Linked DNA regions of Homo sapiens. The protein of the gene in region 1 interacts with the protein of each later gene in a biochemical or structural test. Each region holds a gene or a part of one and is shown on either strand. Other genes may lie near its edges. The genes, in order: CGN and TJP1.

Region 1 (16,612 bases):
AGAATGAAATATCTTTTGGGGACTCTTGGAAGTCCTGTACTCAAAGATTGGACATGTATATAAAGTGAGTATATGCAGTGACCATTTCTTATCTTCCCTAACCAGAATAGAAATTGTACTTAGCCAGGAAAAGCCCCAAGTGTTAGTATAATTACATATTATTATTGCTGTTGAAGAGCAAAGTATTTGTAAACAAAGCTCAAGAGAGAAATGATGAGTAATACGCTAAAAGAGCATCAGGGTGAGTGGTCCTTGCTTTTCCCTCCTTTTGCCACCACTGTGGTTTTTTTTTTTTTTTTTGAGACAGAGTCTTGCCCTGTTGCCCAGGCTGGAGTGCAATGGCACGACCTTGGCTCACTGCAACCTCCGCCTCCTGGGTTCAAACGATTCTCCTGCCTCAGCCTCCCGAGTAGCTGGGATTACAGGCGCCCACCACCATGCCCAGCTATTTTTTGTATTTTTAGTAGAGACGGGGTTTCACCATGTTGGCCAGGCCACCATGTTGTTGAACTCCTGACCTCAGGTAATCTGCCTGCCTCAGCCTCCCAAAGGGCTGGGGTTACAGATGTGAACCACTGCGCCCGGCCACCACTGTGGTTTTTAGGGTTTACCTCAATCAAGCCTTACCATTGCATTTATCATAGAGACTTTCTGAAGTACTGCCTCTTTCCTGCTCAAGAACATTTAATAGCTCTCCATTACCTACCAATAAAGCCCACATTTCTTTTTACTTCTTTCTTTTTTTTTTTTCTTAAAGAAACATAGTGTAGCTCTGTTGCTCAGGCTAGAATACTGTGAAAGCCCACATTTCTTTTCTTTTCTCTTTGTCACCCAGGCTGGAGTGCAATGGTGCAATGGAGCGATGTCAGCTCACAGCAACCTCTGCCTCCCGGGTTCAAGCGATTCTCCTGCTTCAGCCTCCTGAGTAGCTGGGATTACAGGCACCCGCCATCATGCCTGGCTAATTTTTTTGTATTTTTGTAGAGACAGAGTTTCACCATGTTGGCCAGACTGGTCTTGAACTCCTGATCTCAGGTGATCCACCTGCCTCAGCTTCCCAAAGTGCTAGGATTACAGGTGTGAGCCACCGAGCCCAGCCGAAAGCCCACATTTCTTATTCTGATATTCTAGGCTTTATACAATCTACCCCAGAATTTACCTATCATCTTATTTACCACTATTCTCTGTCCCTTTGCTCTACAGGCTAACCTTCCAGTTCGCTAAACTGACATGATGCTTTTCTGCCCCTAGGGCCTTTGCACGTTTTCTTGCTGTCTTTCTTCCTTCCTTTCCCCTGCCTGTTTTTTCAAGGCCCAGATTATAAATCACTCTATTCTAGTTGAAAGGGAAGCTTTCCAGTAACACTTCATTTGTGCCATTGATTTGGCATTTATCATATTCTTCCTTAGGCTTGTAGATAATACCAGCAGTTCCAAAACCTTTTAACAAATTCTCCAGCCCTGAGAATCACTTCTCTTTGGCAGGTCCAGTAATCTGGTGAACTAGTTACCTGCCTCAACTTTCTCAACTCCTCACTCTTTCACATCTGTTCTTCCAATTTAAGTTCCAGAACAGAGACTTCACCTTCTCCTCTAAGTTCCAAGTTTTGACTATTTGGCTGTTCTCTTTTTCTCTTTTCCTCTTTCTCCCATCTCATCTTAGTTCTTGAATCTTGTCTCCTTTTCTAGCTTCTTATTAAAACATAACCAAGTCTCTTCTTCTTCTCCTTTCTTTTTTTTGAGATGGAGTTTCGCTCTTGTTGCCCAGGCTGGAGTGCAATGGCACAATCTCGGTTCGCTGAAACTTCCGCCTTCCAGGTTCAAGCAATTATCCTACCTCAGCCTCCCAAGCAGCTAGGATTACAGGTATGTGCCACCACACTCAGCTAATTTTTGTATTTTTAGTAGAGGCGGGGTTTTACCATGTTGGCCAGACTGGTCTTGAACTCCTGACCTCACGTGATCTGCCCGTCTTGGCCTTCCAAAATGCTGGGATTACAGGTGTCAGCCACTGCGCCCAGCCAGTCTCTCCCTCTTAAAAATGAAACCAGCTGGGCACAGTGGCAAATGCCTGTAATCCCAACACTTTGGAGGCCGAGGCGGGTGGATCACTTGAGCTCAGGAGTTCAAGACCAGCCTGGACAATATGGCAAAACCCCTTCTCTACAAAAAATACAAAAATTAGCTGGGTGTGGTGATGTGCACCTGTAGTCCCAACTACTCAGGAGGCTGAGGTGGGAGGATCGCTTGAGCCCAAGGAGTTGAGGCTGCAGTGAGCCGTGACTGCACCACTACACTCCAGCCTGCGTGACAGTGAGACCCTGTCTCAAAAAAAACCAAACACCCCCCCACCAGTCTCCCCACAAAACCCCAAAACCAAACATAGAAGTTGCCCTTTCTTTTACCCTGTTTTCCTTTAAGTCAAGGTACCCTCTCTCTTTCCTTTTTATTGATACACTTCTTATATTGCATTCTGAGTTGAAAGCCTATCACACTGCTGAAACTGACGTCTGGAAGATCACCCATAACTTCGAAATGCCAAATTCCAGTCTCTTCTCCTACTTGAATACCTCTCTTGCATGAACTTCTTTACTTACCTTTCTCAATAACCCCACAATGATCCCGTTTTTACTCCTCATCTGTCCTTTATTTCTCACAGTTTGTTCTGTAGTCCTCTTAGCAAACTTTCATCTATGAGGATGATTCTTAGCTCTGTCTCTAGCCCTGATTTCTTTTCTAGGCTTCATTTCCAGTTGTTTGCTAGACATTTGTATGTGTGTGTGGATTTACCACATGCTTTTTTAAAATTTTTTTTGAGACGGAGTTTTGCTCTGGTTGACCAGGCTGGAGCACAGTGGCGTGATCTCTGTTCACCGCAATCCCTGCCTTCCGGGTTCAAGTGATTCTCCTGCCTCAGCCTCCCGAGTAGCTGGGATTATAGGCGTGTGCCACCACGCCCGGCTAATTTTTGTATTTTTAGTAGAGACAGGGTTTCTCCATGTTGGTCAGGCTGGTCTTGAACTCCTGACCTCTGTTGATCCGCCCGCCTCAGCCTCCCAAAGTGCTGGGATTACAGGCGTGAGCCACCGCGCCCGGCATCACATGCTTCTTTAAAATATCAGGTTCCAGAGTTAATTTATCATACTCTTCTTCTAGGTCCTCCTCAAATCCTTCCTGTCTCTTGTCCTTTCCATTTCAGCTAGTGGCATCACCTCATTTCCATTATTATTATTATTATTATTATTTCGAGACAGAGTTTCACTCTTGTTGCCCAGGCTGGAGTGCAATGGCACAATCTCGGCTCATTGAAACCTCAGCCTCCTGGGTTCAAGCGATTCTCCTGCCTCAGCCTCCCGAGTAGCTGGGATTACAAGCATGTACCACCATGCCCGGCTAATTTTTGTATTTTTAGTAGAGACAGGGTTTCACCATGTTGGCCAGGCTGGTCTCGAACTCCTGACCTCACGTGATCCGCCTGTCTTGGCCTCCCAAAATGCTGGGATTACAGGCATGAGCCACCGTGCCCGGCCTTAAACGGGTGATCTTTGAGAGAACAATTCAGTAGAGTTGCTAGTGGTATCAGTGAATCTTGGAGAATTCAGGAAAGAATTGCAGGAGAGGAATTTGGTTCCAAATCCACTTTTTTTTTTTTTTTTTTTTGAGATGGAGTCTCGCTCTGTCGCCCAGGCTGGAGTGCTGTGGCTAGATCTCAGCTCACTGCAAGCTCCGCCTCCTGGGTTCAGGCCATTCTCCTGCCTCAGCCTCCCAAGTAGCTGGGACTACAGGCGCCCACCACCACACCCAGCTAATTTTTTGTATTTTTAGTAGAGACGGGGTTTCACCATGTTAGCGAGGATGGCAAATCCACTTCTTTGATGAAACCTGCAATTTACCTAAAACTTTCTCTATTATCCCATTTCATAAAATAAAACTTCTCTCTTTAACATCTATCAGTGTTATTTCTTCTTTCTGGGTATTATATTTGCTATAAATTCTGTTTTTGCTGTATTTATAAACTGGCCAATTTTGCCATTTCTTTTTTGAAAAAATTTTATTATTATTATTTTTTATAAAGATGGGGTCTCACTGTGTTGCCCAGGCTGGTCTTGAATTCCTGGGTTCAAGCGATCCAACTCCAGGGCTCAAGCTATCCTCCTGTTTTGGCCTCCCAAAGTGCTGGGATTAGAGGCATGAGTCATCACGCCTGGCCCTGTAGCATTTCTTAAGGAGAGGGATCACCTGTCTTCTGAACTCTGGAAAAAGACCAGGGTGTCGCCTTTGTCACTTGTGCCTGGATGTACCTCTCAGACTGAGTGCTTCCTTGAAGAACAGATGACGAAGGCGGTGACTCAGAGGCTCCCACTTATCCTTGTAATTCGTGTTCATGGTGCTGGGTAACCACCCAAATTGGTATTTACTACAAATATACTAAGTATCCTAATTGCTAAGGTGTTATCTAGGGGAGTTTAGGCGCTTCCGCCTTTCCAATATCTGAGTCAATTTAATATCCCACATTAAAAAAAAAAATCTCCTTACAAACACTTGGTGGGGGCGAGCGTGGTGGCTCACTCCTGTAGTCCCAGTACTTTGAGAGGTCGAGGCAGGCGGTTCGCTTGAGTTCAGGAGTTCAAGACCAGCCTGGACAACATGGAAACCCCATCTCTACTAAAAATGCCAAAATTAGCCCGGTGTGGTGGTGGGCGCCTGAAGTTCCAGCCACTCAGGAGGCTGAGGTGGGAGGATCGCTTGAGCTTTGGAGGCTGAGGCTGCAGTAAGCAGAGATTGCACCACTGCACTCCAGCCCGGGTGACAGAGTGAGACTCCGTCTCAATGAAAAAAACAAAACTAAAGCAAAAACAAAAACAAAAAAACCCAAAACAGGCTGGGTGTGGTGGCTCACGCCTGTAATCCTAGCCCTTTGGGAGGCCAAGGTGGGCAGATCACTTAAGGACAGGAGTTCAAGACCAGCCTGGTGAAACCCTGTCTTTATTAAAAAATACAAAATATTAGCCGGAAATCAATTGAATCTGGGAGGCGGAGGTTGCAGTGAGCCGAGATTGCGCCACTGGACTTTAGCCTGGGCGATAGAGCAAGACTCCGTCTTAAAAAAAAAAAACAACAAAAAAAACCCAAACCAAAAACCATCCCATGGGAGTGTCTCTGAACCTATTCTGGTTCAGGAGGCTGCACAATAAAAGAAAAATAAGAAAAAATTTTTTAAAAAAAAGTCTTTTAAAAGCCACCCAGTGTTCAGGAGGTGCGCTCCTGGAAGGACATTTCCTCTTCTGTCCCCACCCCCACTACATGTTTTTTGCTGTTCCTCCCCAGGGAACAGGCCGGTTTGATGGCCCTAATCCTTATATACAGCTTGCTCTGGAATGCAGAGACTTTGCATCCCAGCTGAGGAGCTGGTAAGTGGACTTTACTCTGTAGGACCCACACCTAGCTTTTGAAGGCTTGGGGAGGGGCGGAAACCAGCTCCCGAGAATACACCGGAATCTGTGCTGCATCGAAGATTCCTCTTCTACTCCAATAGATACAGGGTAAATATTTGTTGTAACTAAATGAGAACAAAATCCGGAGCCCAGCAACGTAAACGAAGTCAATCTCTTTTTTACATATCTCAACGGTTAACAGCTAGGATGCCAGCTTTAATGTTGTTTTAACTGCAGCTGGTATGAGCGGTCCTGCAGTTTGCAGAGCCCCTAGTTTTTACTCTTTTCTAGGAACTGGGATCAGCATCCCTACTTTTTGAGAGGCTAACTCTGAGGTAAATTTACAACTGAGTCCCTTTCAGTTTAGAACGAAGGTCATTCCTATTTTGGTAAATTTGCGTCCCCGGTTTCCATTCATTCAGTCAACAAATATTTATTAAGCATGTAGTATGTACCAGTCCCTGTTGTAGGCGTTTGGGGTGAAGCAAGGCACAGAACAAGAGATCCTTGCTCTGGTGAAGCTTATCGTAGGACGGGAGGCAAAATGATGAAAATGATTTTTAAAATTATGTTATTAACTAGAAGGTGATAAATATTACATAGAAAAAGATGTCAGGCTGCAAAATGATTGCGGAGGCCACAAGATAAAAGAGAATCCAAGATCAGGGTTCTGGTTCGGGTCAGGGAAAAGGGAGACGAGCTGAGGTGCAGGAGGCTCTGACGTCGGGGGACAACGGAGATATTTTCTGCAGAAAGTGACGAAAGAGCATTCTGGTTCCTGCAGAGGTAGGTGAAGGACAGAAAGGGCCCTGGCCGGCGATTCCCTTGGAGTAAACGGGAGGCAGGAGGCTGTTTTCTAGCAGAGCCCAGAAGATGCTCTGGCCGACGGCTCCCGGGATCTTGGCCGGCGGTCACTCGCGACCATCCGCGACGCCCCCAAAATGGCCTCCGCGCCCCTCGCCGCCCCGCCCCGACGCTCCGCAGCCCGTGGGTCCACGTGACCTGGCCCGCCCTTCGCGGCTGGAGACCCCGGGTCCCGGTCCCCGCACCGGAGGCCCCGCCCCCTACGGGAAGCGGACCAACCGGAGCGGGGAAAGGCGGGGCGGGCACTGACGGCCCGCGGGGGTGGAGCTCCGCAGCGGAGTAACAGGTTGGTGGGAGGGAGAGAAAGGAGGGAGCTCCGAGGACGAGGGGGAGGGCCGGAGCTGCGCGTGCTGCTTTGCCCGAGCCCGAGCCCGAGCCCGAGCCCGAGCCCGAGCCCGAGCCCGAACGCAAGCCTGGGAGCGCGGAGCCCGGCTAGGGTGAGTGGACCCGGTGCGGGCCAGGGCACCCGAGAGGAAAGCGAGCCTTCAGGGGTACCTTTGAGGGGCAGGCATCGAGGCGGTGTGAGATGCCCCTCTCCAGGGCACCGGTGCCGAGTGGGAGACGGGAGGAGGGGAGATTGGGGCGGGGTGGGGTACTGATTAAGAGCCGACCCCTACCCTGAGGTGCCAGATGCAGGTGGCTAGGAAGGTGCCAGGCGAGGGGCACCTGGGGCGAAGGCTGTTCCCAGCGCATGAAAGCGTTTCAGCGCCAGATGTCTCTGGAGGTCAGACGCCAGCCCTAGGGGCAGAATTTCTCTTGGAGACAGCGGTGGCGCGGGGAAGGAGTTAGTTCCAGCTGAGTCGGGAACTGCTGCTGCCTGAGGTGCAGACTCGCCAGGGGAGGGCATCTGCAGGTGCTGCTCGCCTGAGGGTCTTTCCTGCGTCCTGCGGTCTCAGCTGGCCGTTGTCAGCACCCTGGTGGCTTTGAGATGACTCTGAGGTGTGGGATTTTTTCCCCAGCCCTTCACCTCCGGCCGAAGGCAGTTGCGAATCAGAGACACTGAGGGGCAGATGAGAGGGCACCCTCATCTCTTCACCAGGTGTACAACCATTAGGCTTTCACTTTGTGTCCTTTGCTTTCGTGCCAGGGAGAATCGTTCCTTCTTCCTCTTGAGAGAGAGAGAGAGTACTCCCCAAGAGAGGGATATGAGGAAGCAAAGAGCCCTGCCTGGTCCTGCAAAATATTGATAAATATTAATACTTATTTCTCAGGAGGCCCCTTTCTGGGGGCGGATGTCAAACCCTTTCTCCAAGTACCCACATATTTTTTCTGTGGTTCTAGATGGGGACCATTGGATGAGGTTTGGGAGCCCAACCAATTTCCTTGATGTCTGGAGGAATCCCCATTACTCCCTGAACGCCCTCCAGGCATCCCTGACTCCTGAACTGCGGTGGCTGTCAGAATGGCAGCAGGCACTATTGGGGCAGGAAATAGGCAGGACTCATCAGGAGACCACGAGACTAGGGAAATTACAACTCCAAATCCCCAGGACAGATGAAAGGTGCACCTTGGGGCCCAGACAAGACTGGAGGCAAATTTCTTTGCCTTAGGCAGGTAAAGGAACTAGAGTCAACCTTAGCTTGGCCCCTTTGAAGCCCTGCCTGAGGAAGGTTGTTGTAATTGGGAAATAATTAGCAACCGCTATGTTTGTAGATGGGCTGCCTACACATGCCTATGCATCTCTTCTTTCATCCTGGATGTTTGGGAGTCTGGGGGCTGGCTCTGGGGGACTGCTAATCCAGAGATTTGCCCGACTCTAAGAGGATTCTGGCTTCCTAGAACCCTTCCTGTGTTTCCCAGGCTGGCCTGCATGCCATTCCCCTTGTGGGAGGTGATGGGGGTGTAGGGCTCTTCTCTTTGTGCCAGGGAGGGGCGGACTGAGGACCAGGGAGGTGGCCAAAGCAAGTGTGGGATCAGGAATGCAACTTTGGGAACCTCAAAGGGAGGGGTGGAGGGAGACAAAGTCTCCCTGTCACATACTGGCCTGTCACCAGGTTCCTGTTCATCTGCTCCTCCTGCCTGTTCCCTCCCTGCCCTCTGTCCTCTCCTTCAGAGCTTTGGCTTTGCCATCAAGGCTGGAGAGCCCCTGCCTGTGGTCTTGCCCCTCTGCCTCCTCCGTGGTGTGGAATTTCTCTGGTCTGCTTTACAAGCTGCCAGTGTAGTTTCCCCGGCCCTCCCCTTCCCCTTGCCTCTCAAACCAGTCCAGCCAGTTTGCAGGGGCCCAGTTCCTCATTGTGTTTTTTTCCCTACTGGCCAAGCAGCTGTAGCCTGGCTCTCAGGTTTCTGCTCTTTCAGCGGACCTGGGCAGGAGTCCACTTGGGGGATTCTTTTTGGATCCACGGGGAACCTTCTTATCTCTAACTATGAGAAAAAGGGTGCCAAATCATCAAGGTCACTGAGCTGTCCTTTTCTATTTCGACCATTTGCTTTCCTTGTTTCCTCTGAGGGGATTCTAATCTCTATACCTCAAGTTCTCCCGTTTTCTAAATCTGCCAATTATTTAGCATCAAGCATATTGCCTGGCCCTATGTGAATCAGTCCTTCCTCCACACACCCGAAACCACCCCACCCCCACTTCCTGCCAGAAGTCCAGATACCCTGTCACTCCTAGTTGGAAACCAGATGCATATGGCTGGGCCAGAGGTGATGGAATTGGGGCAGGGCAGGCTAATGAGTAACTCAGGGAGAAGTGGCTGTCTGGTACAGGTGTAGAGTGTTCTCCCACTCCTTGCAGGCAGGAAAGGCAGAAGCAGACAGATGCACCTGAATCAACTTGTGGTCTGGTCTCTTCCTGGAGTACAGTTGGTGAGGAGAGCCCTGGACATGTGATAGGGGAGAGAAAAGTAGGGTCAGGCATTGGTGAGGGCGCAGGCCCTGGACTCCATGTTGCCTGGCCCTTGATCACTGTTTACCTGCCTGTCTCTGGGGCTTACGCAAGGCCTCAGAGCTGCCCTGCTGCCTTGGTCCCGCCCCACTGTCCTCTGTAACCAAAGGCGGGTAGGTTTCGGGTTTTCCATGTTGAATCATTTAGAGCCCTGCTTTCTGACCCACCCCAAAGATCCCTTCAGCCCTCCTGGCCCCTGATCCACATGTCCTTGGACTGAAGGTGATTGAGGTTAGGGAGTTAACCTAACCTGGGACCTGGGGGAGTGTTCAACACTGCCTCTGAATAATTTAGTGCTGTTGCTCAAGGGTCTGTGCCCTCTGCTGGGCCTAGGCTGGGAACTCCTTGACCTGGATCTGGAAGATCAGTAGATGTACTGACAGGGTAGACTGCATCATGAATAAATCATATGGCTTCTGAGAGCTGGCAATCTAGGCACTTCTGGTTCTAAGATCATGACTACATAGGGCAGCAAGTCTGGACCAGGAGGAGGTCCTGTTGCTAAGAGGTCCTGTTACTGAGGCAAAGTAGATTTGTCCTGGGCAAATCTCCCCACTGCTGTGCAAGTGGGCTTTAGTTCAGGATACAGCCTTTAACAAATATTTGTTGACATCTACCACGTGTCCAAACACCTGGGGACACAGTGGTTAGCTGCTAGCCATGGTCTTTGCCCTCCAGGAGCTTATTATCTCGTAGGGGAGACAGACAGGAAATAATTACTCCAATAAATGTATAAATATAAACTGGAGTAAACCTGCTGAAGGACAACTATAGAGCGTATAACGTGGATCTGACCTGGTTTGTGGGAGGCTGATTTGTGAGAACTGACCTTGTTTGTGGGAGTGGTGGTCAGGGAAGGCTTCTCTGAAGAAGTGACATCTTTCTATGAACCAGGTGAAGCCAAAAGTGCCTGTTGGACAAAGTAGCATGTGTGAAGGATGATATTTGTTGTCAGCTTTGTGATAGTCACATGCTAAATGTTTTCATGTTTAATATCTTGTTTTTCTCTCCTTTTTATTAAATTAGAACCCAAGTTCAATAAAGTACAAACATCTTTTTTTTTTTTTTTGAGATGGAGTCCTGCTCTGTGACCCAGGCTGGCGGATCTCGGCTCACTGCAGCCTGTGCCTCTCAGGTTTAAGCAATTCTCCTGCCTCGGCCTCCCCAGTAGCTGGGATTCCAGGCGTGCACCACCACGCACAGCTAATTTTTGTATTTTTAGTAGACGTGGGGTTTCACCATGTTGGCCGGGCTGTTATTGAACTTCTGACTTCAGGTGATCTGCCTATCTCAGCCTCCCAAAGTGTTGGGATTACAGGCATGAGCCACTGCGCCTGGCCTAAATAAAGTACAAAGATCTTAAGGGTATAACTTGGTACTTTTTTATCATTGTATATGCCCATATAATTATTTATTATCTCATTCTCACAGATAATAACCTTGTGGGGTATTATCATTATACCCATTTTACAGATGAGGAAACTGAGGCACAGAAAAGTTGTGGGTTTTTTGTTGTCGTTGTTGTTTTTGAGACAGAGTCTTACTCTATTGCCCAAGCTGGAGTGCAGTGGTGCAATTACAGCTCACTGCAGCTTCAACCTCCTGGGCTCAGGTGATCCTCCTGCCTCAGCCTCCTAAGTCGCTGGGACTACAGGTGTGTACCACCATACTCGGCTAGTTTTTTGTATTTTTTGTAGAGATGGGGTTTTGCCATATTGCTCAGGCTGGTCTCAAACTCCCGAGTTCAAGTGATCCACACACCTTGGCCTCCCAAAATGCTGGGATTACAGGCGTGAGCCACCACACCAGAAAAGTTGTGATTTGCCTCAGGTTGCATACATCAGGTGAAGAGCAGAGACAGGATTCCAGACCAGATCCTGACTCTAGCCCAGTGCATTTTCTTCTACTGGATGAGTGGTTTGGAGAACTACTTTACCTGTCTGCCTTCACAAGCCTTTTAAGATGGGGTGATAAAAGTTTGGATGTGCTGTCTCCTCAGGGAGAGTGTATTGCTTTCATCATTTTCTCATGGAGTCCCAGGGCCAAAAAGATGAAGAACAATTCCTAATAAAGGGCTCTTCTCTCCCTGTTCCTTTCTCTTGAGAATTGCTGGGAATTCTAAGAATGCTCTTCTTCAGATAGACCTTCCCCACCAAGCCCTTTGTCACCTGTAGCTCTGCCTCTCCCATCCCTTCCCCTCCCTTCTCATCTCACCCTGGCTTGCTAGCACTTTACAGTCCCTGAAAGGGGCCTTGCCAAGTTTCCTTGGCCCAGAACTCCATGGGGAGGTTGAGTTGGGTATGTTTGTGTTTCTGTCTGGCACGTTAGAGGCTCATCCTCCAGTTTGGTGCTAGGCTCTGGTGGAGACTAGCAGAAGGGGTGGGGAAGCTGAATTTTTTTATTTGCTTGGAAGACAATCTCTCCCCCAAGTTCCTGGAGCCAGAGCATACCTGGAATACATTCCATTTGCTGACTCTGAGCTTTAGCAATGTGGACCTGGGAAGCTGGCCTATGGATGGTGTTGGCTCTGGCTCTCAGCTGAGACAAGTTTACCTGACCTGGGGCCCCTTAAAGTGGCACTTTTTTTTTTTTTTTTTGAGATAGAGTTTCACTCTTGTTGCCCAGGCTGGAGTGCAATGGCGTGATCTTGGGTCACTGTAACCTCCGTCTCCCAGGTTCAAGCGATTCTCCTGCCTCAGCCTCCCGAGCAGCTGGGATTACAGGCCCCCGCTACCACGCCCGGCTGATTTTGTATTTTTAGTAGAGACAGGGTTTCACCATGTTGGTCAGGCTGGTCTCAAACTCCTGACCTCAGGTGATCCACACGCCTTGGCCTCTGAAAATGCTGGGATTACAGGCGTGAGCCACCATGCCCGGCCGAGTGGCACAGTTTTTAAACCACATTTAAATATTTTTGGCTGGGTGCGTGGCTCATGCCTGTAATCCCAGCACTTTGGGAGGCTGAGGCGGGCAGATCACCTGAGGTCAGGAGTTTGAGACCAGCCTGGCCAATATGGTGAAACCCCATCTCTACTAAAAACAAAAATTAGCCGGGCATGGTGGCAGGTGCCTGTAATCCCAGCTACTCGGGAGGCTGAGGCAGGAGAATTGCTTAAACTCGGGAGGCAGAGGTTGCAGTGAACCAAGATCACGCCATTGCACTTCAGCCTGGGCAACAAGAGCAAAACTCTGTCTCAAAAAAAACACAACCTTTTCTTGAATAGATAATACATCTACGTGGTTCCAAATTCAAAAGGGACATAAGAGATATACAGTAGAATGTCCACTCCTTTCTGCTCTTCCAGAGAATAGAAACTCTCCCATCCCTGTTCCTAGTCCTCAGTTCCTCCACCTCAAAGGCATCACTGCTATCAGTGTTTTTAAGTTTCTTTCCAGAAGTGGGATGATATACTTTGAGGTCTTCTATATTTTAAATGAGCTCTGGGAGAGAAGGCCCCCTTTTCTCCAGTGAGATGGAGGTATCTGCTCAGCAGGGTGTGGGTTCTGCCTTCCCTTGGTGGGAGGAAGGGAAGAAGGCACACAGTGTTTTTTTTTTTTTTTTTTGGAGATAGAGTTTTGCTTTTGTCACCCAAGCTGGAGTGCAGTGGCGCAATCTCGGCTCACTGCAACCTCCACCTCCCGGGTTCAAGCAATTCTTCTGCTTCAGCCTCCTGAGTAGCTGGGATTACAGGCATGCGCCACCACGCCTAGCTAAGTTTTTGTATTATTAGTAGAGACAAGGTTTCACCGTGTTGGTCAGGCTGGTCTTGAACTCCTGACCTCAGGTGATCCACCTGCCTCAGCCTCCCAAAGTGCTGGGATTATAGGCATGAGCCACTGTACCTGGCCACATGGTGGTATTATATGTATGTATGAAGATCAAGTAAAATCTTTTTTTTTTTTTTTGAGACAGGGTCTCACTCTGTCACCCAGGCTGGAGAACAGTGGCATAATCACTGCTCACTGCAGCCTCTCTCAAGCTCAAGTGATCCTCCCACCTCAGCCTCCCAAGTAGCTGGGATTACAGGTGTGCACCACCAGGCCCAGTTTATTTTTGTATTTTTTGTAGAGATGGGGTTTCACCATGTTGCCCGGACTGGTCTTGAACTCCTGAGCTCAAGCAGTCCACCCGCCTTGGCCTTCCAAAGTGGTGGGATTACAGGTGTGAGCCACTGCTCCTGGCCATCAAGCAAAATCTTTAAACTTTTAACAAAGCCTAGCTCCCCAGGGCTGTATCAGAGGAAGTGGATTCTTTTAGGTTAGTGAGTCTCAAAGTGTGGTACCTGGACCAGTAGCATCAGTATCACCTGGGGAACTTGGTTAGAAATGCAAATTCTCAAGTCCTAACCCAGACCTACTGAATCAGAAGCTCTGGAGGTTAGGTCCAGCAACCGGTATGTTAAAAGGCTCTCCAGGGGCCTTCTGTTAGTCTGAGAATCAGTGGTTTATCTAGTAGGAACTGACAGGGAAGTCAGCCCGCAGGTAGAAGTTTCATAGTTTCTAGTGAAGTCTCTCAGCCTAAACTCATTTCTTCATCTTCTAGGACTCCTCCTATTTATGGAGCAGGCACCCAACATGGCTGAGCCCCGGGGCCCCGTAGACCATGGAGTCCAGATTCGCTTCATCACAGAGCCAGTGAGTGGTGCAGAGATGGGCACTCTACGTCGAGGTGGACGACGCCCAGCTAAGGATGCAAGAGCCAGTACCTACGGGGTTGCTGTGCGTGTGCAGGGAATCGCTGGGCAGCCCTTTGTGGTGCTCAACAGTGGGGAGAAAGGCGGTGACTCCTTTGGGGTCCAAATCAAGGGGGCCAATGACCAAGGGGCCTCAGGAGCTCTGAGCTCAGATTTGGAACTCCCTGAGAACCCCTACTCTCAGGTCAAGGGATTTCCTGCCCCCTCGCAGAGCAGCACATCTGATGAGGAGCCTGGGGCCTACTGGAATGGAAAGCTACTCCGTTCCCACTCCCAGGCCTCACTGGCAGGCCCTGGCCCAGTGGATCCTAGTAACAGAAGCAACAGCATGCTGGAGCTAGCCCCGAAAGTGGCTTCCCCAGGTAGCACCATTGACACTGCTCCCCTGTCTTCAGTGGACTCACTCATCAACAAGTTTGACAGTCAACTTGGAGGCCAGGCCCGGGGTCGGACTGGCCGCCGAACACGGATGCTACCCCCTGAACAGCGCAAACGGAGCAAGAGCCTGGACAGCCGCCTCCCACGGGACACCTTTGAGGAACGGGAGCGCCAGTCCACCAACCACTGGACCTCTAGCACAAAATATGACAACCATGTGGGCACTTCGAAGCAGCCAGCCCAGAGCCAGAACCTGAGTCCTCTCAGTGGCTTTAGCCGTTCTCGTCAGACTCAGGACTGGGTCCTTCAGAGTTTTGAGGAGCCGCGGAGGAGTGCACAGGACCCCACCATGCTGCAGGTCAGACCCAGCCCCTCCCTGACTTCTAAATGTCAGCCCCTTCTCCCTTCTCATCAGCTTTTACCCACCAGCCATGAGCCTCCTTGCTAATTCAAATAGCCTAGGCAGAAACTCTCTGCCTTTTGTTCTCTACTGTATCTGTCCACAAAATAGGTGATATTCACATGCACAGGATATTTCCATGGGTAAAATTCTAAAGAAAATGGAGCAAGCTATAAAATCACTATTCACAAGTTTGGACCTAGTTGTCATTGCCACAACCATTAACTATGGCTCAGTCACCAGCATTTGCAAGGTCTGCAGAATATGTAAGGCGGGCTTGGAGGATAAGAGCAGTTTCCTTGGTGCTCTTGCCAAAATTCCACACCTTTCTCTCCTACTCAGGAATGTAAGTAAGTGAGGGAGTGACTTTACTTTGAGAGAAACGTAAGTCTGTTTTAAAAGTAAATTATTTATAAACTCTAGCATGTTAACTACCATTAGTGACAAATCACTTGTGGCACAGTTTGCAGCTGGTTGAGATGTTTGTTGAGGAAAATCTGGTTTACAGCAACAGTGCAGAGGTGCATCCTGTGTTGGCCTCTCCCTGGCCTGTTGCTCAGGCCTCCACAGCATGTTTTCCTTGCTGCATTTCAGGATTGTTCATCATGCTTGAAGGGACTTGACCTGAGACTGCCACTTCTCCTCCATCTGAACCCCACGCATGCTTCTGGCCTAATCTTCCTATTTCTTTCTTTCTTTCTTTTTTTTTTCTTTTTCTTTTTTTTTAACAGTTCAAATCAACTCCAGACCTCCTTCGAGACCAGCAGGAGGCAGCCCCACCAGGCAGTGTGGACCATATGAAGGCCACCATCTATGGCATCCTGAGGGAGGGGTGAGTGGGGGCCCCCCCAACAACAGAGGCATACCCCTCCTTCTTTTTCTTCTAGCTTTGTTTCCCATCTTCCCTGATTTTACCCTTTCCTGATCTCTGCTACCTCTTTCCTCCCCTAACCCTTGCTTCTATCCTTTTATCCTCTAGAAGCTCAGAAAGTGAAACCTCTGTGAGGAGGAAGGTTAGTTTGGTGCTGGAGAAGATGCAGCCTCTAGTGGTGAGTGGCCTTCTCTGGATGGGAGCAAGGGTCAAGGTTAGAGCTTTGAGGGCCTCAGGGGATCCAGACTTGGACTCACTCCCTTCCCCCACACCCCCCATATCTCTGGCAGATGGTTTCTTCTGGTTCTACTAAGGCCGTGGCAGGGCAGGGTGAGCTTACCCGAAAAGTGGAGGAGCTACAGCGAAAGCTGGATGAAGAGGTGAAGGTAAGGAAAGGTTAGAGGTGCCGGAGGCATGAAGGAAAACAGGGAAAAAGCCTTGGCCTGGAGATGGGCTGAGCTGACCCTTCTAAGCAATGGAACAAGCATGTTTGTGTCTTATGAGACAAGAGACAAGAATGTGTACTAATTCCAGGAAGGACTTCTGGGGTTCTGTGGGGGTTAGGGAGGCAGAGCACATTAGGAATCTACCTACCTTCCATTCCACTCCCTTTGGGAGTTCCCATCCTGGCTCTGCCCCTTACTAGCTATATAAAACTTAAGAAAATTACTTACATTCTCTGTGCCTCAATTTTTTTTTATCATTATCATAATAATGGCAATAGTAGTAGCTATCATTTATTGAGTATAATTTTGGTAGTATGTACTGTCCTGGGTACTGTAATCATTATAGTTACCCTGTGAATACCTATTCTGGACCCTTTTCTGATGAGAAAACTGAAGATCAGAGAGGCTAAGTAAATTGCCTATGGTAGTAAGTTGCAGAGAGGAATGAAAAAATCCGGGTCAGTCTTATTCTAAAGCCAGTGTACCCTTTTTAAAAACATGTCTTCTGCCTTTCATCATATTGGTTTGTGTGTAGTTGGTGCTCAATAAATGTTGGATTGTAACTTCCCTTGTCTTTTGGAAATCACTGTAGTGTAATGATTAAGTGATTGGCTGTGGAGCCAAACTAACTGGGTTCAAAT
Region 2 (7,000 bases), on another chromosome or scaffold:
TGTCAGGTATTGTTCTAAGTGCTCAATTTATTTAATTCTCACAGTAACCCTATGAAGTGAACTATTATCTCTACTTTTTGGTGAAGAAATTGAAACACAGAGATACGATAACTTTTAAGTTCATTTAGCCAGCAAGGTGGAAAACTACGAATATGTGGTAAAAAATAATATTGTAGACTATTGGAGAAAGTGGCTTGTTCAATGTATGGTGCTAGGACTATTGGTTATCCATTTTTTAAAAATGTTTTCTGCCTCATAGGCTAAAAAAAATCAAAGGAAATCTAAATGACAAAGAGCAATAAAAATTCTAAAATAGAAGAAAATGTAGAATACTACTTAAAAATATGTATGTACCTAGATTGAAAAGAATCCTCCGTGCATGATACTAAAGAAGTAATAAAGGCGGGTGGGTCACTTGAGGTCAGGAGTTCGAGGCCAGCCTGGCCAACATGGTGAAACCCCGTCTCTACTAAAAATACAAAAATTAGCCGGGCATGGTGGCGCGTGCCTATAATCCCAGCTACTTGGGAAGCTAAGGAAGGAGAATTGCTTGAACCTGGAAGGCGGAGGTTGCATTGAGCTGAGATCGGGGCCACTGCACTACAGCCTGGGCGACAAAGTGAGCTTCCGTCTCAAAAACAAAAAGTAATGAAGGAAAAAACGTGGCCGGGCGCGGTGTAATCCCAGCACTTTGTGAGGCCAGGAGGGGCGGATCACGACGTCAGGAGTTCAAGACCAGCCTGACCAACATGGTGAAACCCCGTCTCTACTAAAAATACAAAAAAAAAAAAAAAAAAATAGCCGGGCCTGGTGGCGAGCACCTGTAATCCCCCCTAATGGGAAGGCTGAGGCAGGAGAAACGCTTGAACCCGGGAGTCAGAGGTTGCATTGAGCCAAGATCGCACCACTGCACTCCATCCTGGGCGACAGAGCGAGACGCTGTCTCAAATAAATAAATAAAGGAAAAAAACGTTTTTTATATGTGTGATAAACGTCTGCGTTCGCAGTCAGAATTTTGTTTACTGGTGTATTTGATTTAAGATTATTAGAAAGTTGAAAAACAAGAATTAGGGTGGTTCTCTGCGTCACCAAAGAATTGTTTAAATGTGTAAGAAAGTGGTATGAATCATTGTTAAGAAACGATTTCATTGGTTGAATCACAGAAAAGTGGCTGAAGGAAGTTTCAGTGGCTTCTGTGTTTTCAAGCTGTTTTCCTTTGGAGGAAGCAATAAAATTTAATTTAAGATTGTGCTATTGTATATGCTTATTAGATTTTGCTGAATACTTAAATGTTTTTGTTAAGTCTCGGGAATAGTAGTATTGCCCGCTGTGGCTATCTGAAATTATAATGTAAGTATGAAAATGATTTATGTCATTTTTTACTGTTACACTGATTTACATGATACCCAGGAATTGATTTATTGTATCAAGTGGAGCACAGTGGGCTTTTTTTTTTTTAATTAAGTTCTGGGATCCATGTGCAGAATGTGCACATTTGTTACATAGGTATACGTGTGCCATGGTGGTTTGCTGCACCTATGAACCCATCATCTAAGTTTTAAGCCCCACATGCATTAGGTATTTTTCCTAAATGCTTTCCCTCCCTTTCCCCCCACCACCAACCCGGGTAACAGGCCCCAGGTCCTGGTGTGTGATGTTCCCCTCCCTGTGTCCATGTGTTCTCATTGTTCAACTCCCACTTATGAGTGAGAACATGTGGTGTTTGGTTTTCTGTTCTGGTGTTAGTTTGCTGAGGATGATAGCTTCCAGCTTCGTCCGTGTCCCTGCAAAGGACATGAACTCATTCTTTTTTATGGCTGCATAGTATACCATGGTGTATATATGTACCACATTTTCTTTATCCAATCTGTCATTGGTGGGCATTTGGGTTGGTTCCATGTCTTTGCTATTGTAAATAGTGCTGCAGTAAACATATGTGTGCATGTGTCTTTATAGGAGAATGATTTATATTCCTTTGAGTATATACCCAGTAATGGGATTACTGGGTCAAATGGTATTTCTGGTTCTAGGTCCTTGAGGAATTGCCATACTATCTTCCACAATGGTTGAACTAATTTACATTCCCACCAACAGTGTAAAAGCGTTCCTATTTCTCCACAGCCTCGGCAGCATCTGTTGTTTCCTGACTTTCTAATAATCACCATTCTGACGGGTGTAAGATGGTATCTCATTGTGGTTTTGATTTGCATTTCTCTAATGATCGGTGATGATGAGCATTTTTTCATATGTTTGTTGGCCGCATAAATACCTCCTTTTTTTTGGCAGCATAAATGTCTTCTTTTGAGAAGTGTCTGTTCATATTCTTTGCCCAGTTTTTGATACGGATATTTGTTTTCTTGTAAATTAGTTTCACTTCCATGTGGATTCTGGATATTAGACCTTTGTCAGATCAGTAGATGGCAAAAGTTTTTCTCCCATTCTGTAGGTTGCCTGTTCACTCTGATAGTTTCTTTTGCTGTGCAGAAGCTCTTTAGTTTAATTAGATCCCATTTGTCAATTTTAGCTTTTGTTGCAATTGCTTTTGGTGTTTTCATCATGAAGTCTTTGCCCATGCCTATGTCCTGAATGGTATTGCCTAGGTTTTCTTTTAGGGTTTTTATGGTTTTGGGTTTTACATTGAAGTCTTTAATCCATCTTGAGTTAATTTGTGTATACAGTGGGCTTTTCTTGATATCTTAACGTTTTTGAAACCTTAAGAGCTGCAGAAAATGGCCAAGCTAATGAACAAAAATTAATGACAAGAGTCAGTCATTACATATAGGGATTGTTTCTTGAGTGAGTGATGCAGTGTTTTAATTATGATAGTTACTGATCAATGCATACTTGCTTCATACTGTTTTAAAAGTGAAAAACTCACTGTAGTTTGTGAGAAGTCACTGAAGTTTGGCTGCCAACTTTTAATGATCCTCACTGTAGCAATAATTTTTGTGTGTGTTTGGCATTTTAGACCATCATGGTTAAAGCTTTAATTTATATAGTTGGCTGATAATCCTAACTACATTTTACAACTCTTACATTTGTTTCAGGACAGCTTCATAAGATAGTTATGTTTCAAATTGTGGTGTTCTTCCCCCCCAGGTTATATATTGGCACAAATTACATTATATTATTAGGAAAGACACCAATTTGCCAGACTCAAGCATGTAATCCCTGCACTTTGGGAGGCTGAGGCGGGCATATCACCTGAGGGCGGGACTTCAAGACCAGCACAACCAACACGGCCGAAACCCCGTCTCTACTAAAAATACAAAAATTAGCCGGGTGTGGTAGCACATGCCTAAAATCCCAGCTACTTGGGAGGCTGAGGCAGGAGAATCATTTGAACCCAGGAAGCAGAGTTTGCAGTTGAGCCAAGGTTGCAGTGAGTCGAGATAGCACCACTGCACTCCTGCCTGGGCAACAGAGTGAGAGTCTGTCTCAAAAAAAAAAAAGGAAAGACACCAATAAATAATGAGGTGGAAACCAATCTGTGGCTTCGAGGGCTGTAACGCAGTATATGTAGTACTGCTTCCCGTTTGATTTGAAGGAAAAAAAGTACAGTAGTTCCACTCCCTTTTTCCCCTCCAATCCTGGAAACAAGGTCTGGCTCTGACTTTTACTTGCTCTTTAATCTCTTTTCTGTTTAGAGACCAAATGTAAACTCTGTACAGTTCTAAGAATAAAACTGTGTATAAATATGATAGATCACCATGCTGCTAAGGAAAATGTCTTTAAAAATAATAGTTTTGGTGGAAAATTTGAAGACGTAATCCTGTTACTTGACATACCCCTGATATGATAAAAATTCACCTTACTGAAAGACCATGAGTCCAGCTGTAAATTCATGTGTAGTGCCACCCATCTGTGACTGCTCAGTCATTGCTCATTTCAGGCCTGCCTGAAAGCATTCACGTGCTCAGCATTGTGTATGACTGAGCATTATAGTAGCTGAAGACAAGCTAGTGGAATGAGCCAGTCATTTCTAATTAGCAAAGTTTTGATATGTTAAATAAAAAGATAGTTTATGTCTAGAATGATCCTCCTGGAATATTTGACTGGAACTTGCTTTGCACCTCTGAATTTTGAAAGCAAATCTTGAAAAACCTTTTTACTTTAACAACTTTTAGTCTTGTAGAAAGAAATAGACATTAGGATAGTTTACAGATTTTAAAGTTAATCCTATAAAATTGGTGTGTTGCAGTATTTCTTGCATAAGCCAGCAATAAAAATAAGACTTTTGCTCTCTCTGACCTAGAGTGCATCTTTATTTATTTATTGCAGAGAAGAGTGGCTTCAGGTTGCTCCTTTATGGGCTAGCCAGGTGCTTTATTTCCATTCCTCTTAAACAGATAAATTCTTAATAATGAGCAGTATGTGGGGAATACGTGGGTAGGGAGTTTTATCTTATATCCTAAGCATGGATGAAAATAAATGGACTCTGAATGATTGCCTTTACCACAAGAACACAGCTTTAGATCATGAGAACACCAATGTTACCAAACTTTGTACTGTAAAACACCATTTGAAATGTGATAACAAAACCCTGTCATATATGTAGTGCTCAATACTGAATCTCAGGTGGCCCTCACTTTGGGATAGATCAAGAGATAAGGTTTTATTAGTTTGTGTTGCGGATATATTTCAGTTGATATACTGAAAATACTGGGAAGTGAGTTAACTGGTGAATGATCTCAATTCTAGTTTATCATGTCCGGAAAGGAGGTAAAACAGAAGCTGATATTACTTTCTGTGGATTCTAATTAGGAACATAAGATTAGCGTATACCTGGTTTAATTAATTTTTTTTGACTTACCGAAATATTTTTTCCTTTTTAAAAAAATGTAAATTCCCAAAGACTGAAAAGTTCATTTTTCTTCTTGGTTATCTTAGGAATTTTCACGCTTTTGGAATTGTCATTATCTTGGAGATTGTACAACAGTTTCTGGTAACTGAATATCACCAGTTAAACTTAATATAAGATTAGCTCACTTAATTTAGTATGTAATTTTAAAATTCAGGAGGATACCAGTAATGACTAATTCTTTTTGTTAGCTTAACACATATTAAATGAGTACATTTTGTTTGGGATCCCGATCCTAGAAATTTACAGTTTTCAACTGCTATACGCTGTAATGATCACTTTGTGAATTGTGTAACTCATTGTTGAAGAAACAAAGGATTTGCATTGTTTACTCTTAAAAATACGAGCAAACTTATGGTCATCCTGTAATAACAGAGCATTCTTGTGTGCTTTCTTCGTTGGAGGAGGTGACAAAGTCATTTTCTAAACCTGGGCTTGCTGTTTAGCAGAGTTTCTGTATTTTTCCTTGTTAATGTTTTTAAATGTTTGAATTGAATCTGGATACATTGATGTAAGTGTTTTCTGCATATGTTTGGTATCAATATCTCAATAGGAGGGAGACATTAAGAATTATAAAGTAATTGGCTTATATGCTTAACAGCTCCTTGAATATACTGACAAGGCAAATGAACACTATACTAGCTGTTACTGTTACATTTAGGGTTCAAGAAGCTGTGAAATATGTAACAATTTGGATTCCTAAAGCGGAATTTTACATTCAGCAGATATTTGTTGGTTACCTCGTGTGTACCAATCACTGTTGTAGGTGCTGGAGATGCAGCAGTGAACACATCTCTGTACTGATAGGGCATTTTAATGGTGCGGGTAGAGAGCAGCAAATAAAATTCTGTCCATAATGATAAGTGCTAGAATCCCTAACATGCCTTTTCTGGGTCATATCCTCCCTTCTTCAAAGATTGCATGTATCTTGTCTTCTAGGTTTCTCATTTTCTAGTTTTTCTTTATAGTTACCACCTAATTATGCATTCTGAAAGCACTAGTTTTGACTCTCTGAACTTTGCGCATACAGAATCTTCTAGTGTGAATTCTGTTGTATATGGCTTCTTTTGCTCAGCATTATGTTTGTAAGATTATGTTGTGGAGAACTGTAGCTCATTAGTTTTCATTCAGTTCTTGTACTTCATGGTATTCCATTGTATGAGGACTTTATTGGTTTCGGGAGAAAATAGTTTCAGTTAGACTTCTGTGGCTTTTTGGAGAAAAATATTGTATATGTCTGTCTGAGGGGCAAGAATTAGATATGCATTATGAGGCAGTCATTGGAGTACCAACAGCTGAGCAAAAGGTAGTAAGCTTCTTTTGGTGTTCCTATGATTATCTTGAAAAATCAAGTTGGTCTTAGTTTGGAGGATATTTTATGACTAAGATGTTTGTCATACTAAAGTATGTTTTAGTAGTAAGTATTGAAGTATGTTTTAGTAGTAAGATATCCACTTACCTGACTGATCAGACCACCAAAAGCCACAATCAGGGGAAATACATGAATCTGGCAAAAATGAGTCTGCCTTTCAAAATATAATTGTGGAAGTTTTTCCTGGTAATGTCATATAAAGGTACTAAGGAAGGTTTATTTACTGATTTTTTTTTTCTAACAGTGGCAGTTATTGGAGTATTAATACTTACTGGAGTGTTAATACAGAAGTACACTATTTTGATGCTGTATCACCTATAAAAATCAAGTCAGTAGCCATGGCAAGTAGGCTTACATTTTAGTTATAAGTGTGAGAAATATGTGTCAAAACAAACAGTAGCCCCTTATATTGCATGCTGACTCTGTGACAGATACTGAGCTAAGTGTTTTATGTGCATTATCCCATTTAATCTTCACAATTCTGTTAGATACTACGATTATCTCTGTTTTTACAGGTGAAGGATCTGAGGTTAAATTTACTTGCCATAGGTAATCATACATCTACTTACATGTTCTATAAGTCATACATTCACATCCTTTTATGTTCGTGTGTTGTAAGAGAGCACCAGGGAGAAGAGTATGGGATGGTGTTAGGTAAGTCTTAGACCAGAAAAGCAGCATGAATCATGAAAGCCAGAAGAGAGGGCACTGCTCCATCAGAGCACAAGCCAGTTTGTCTAAAGGAAGCAGCTCTTGCTCAGCCCCAG

Evidence for each region.
Region 2: the proteins of CGN (region 1) and TJP1 form a complex in vitro, tested with the Homo sapiens proteins (2 studies listed by BioGRID and IntAct, with this or other methods).

The regions. Positions count from the first base shown.
Region 1 is NC_000001.11:151,504,781-151,521,392, forward strand, and holds the start of CGN (cingulin), read left to right. Parts: upstream 1-6,606; 5' UTR 6,607-6,735; intron 6,736-13,725; 5' UTR 13,726-13,739; coding exon 13,740-14,612; intron 14,613-15,385; coding exon 15,386-15,486; intron 15,487-15,633; coding exon 15,634-15,703; intron 15,704-15,815; coding exon 15,816-15,911; intron 15,912-16,612. UniProt on the Homo sapiens protein: Probably plays a role in the formation and regulation of the tight junction (TJ) paracellular permeability barrier.
Region 2 is NC_000015.10:29,812,469-29,819,468, reverse strand, and holds part of TJP1 (tight junction protein 1), read left to right. Parts: intron 1-7,000. UniProt on the Homo sapiens protein: TJP1, TJP2, and TJP3 are closely related scaffolding proteins that link tight junction (TJ) transmembrane proteins such as claudins, junctional adhesion molecules, and occludin to the actin cytoskeleton.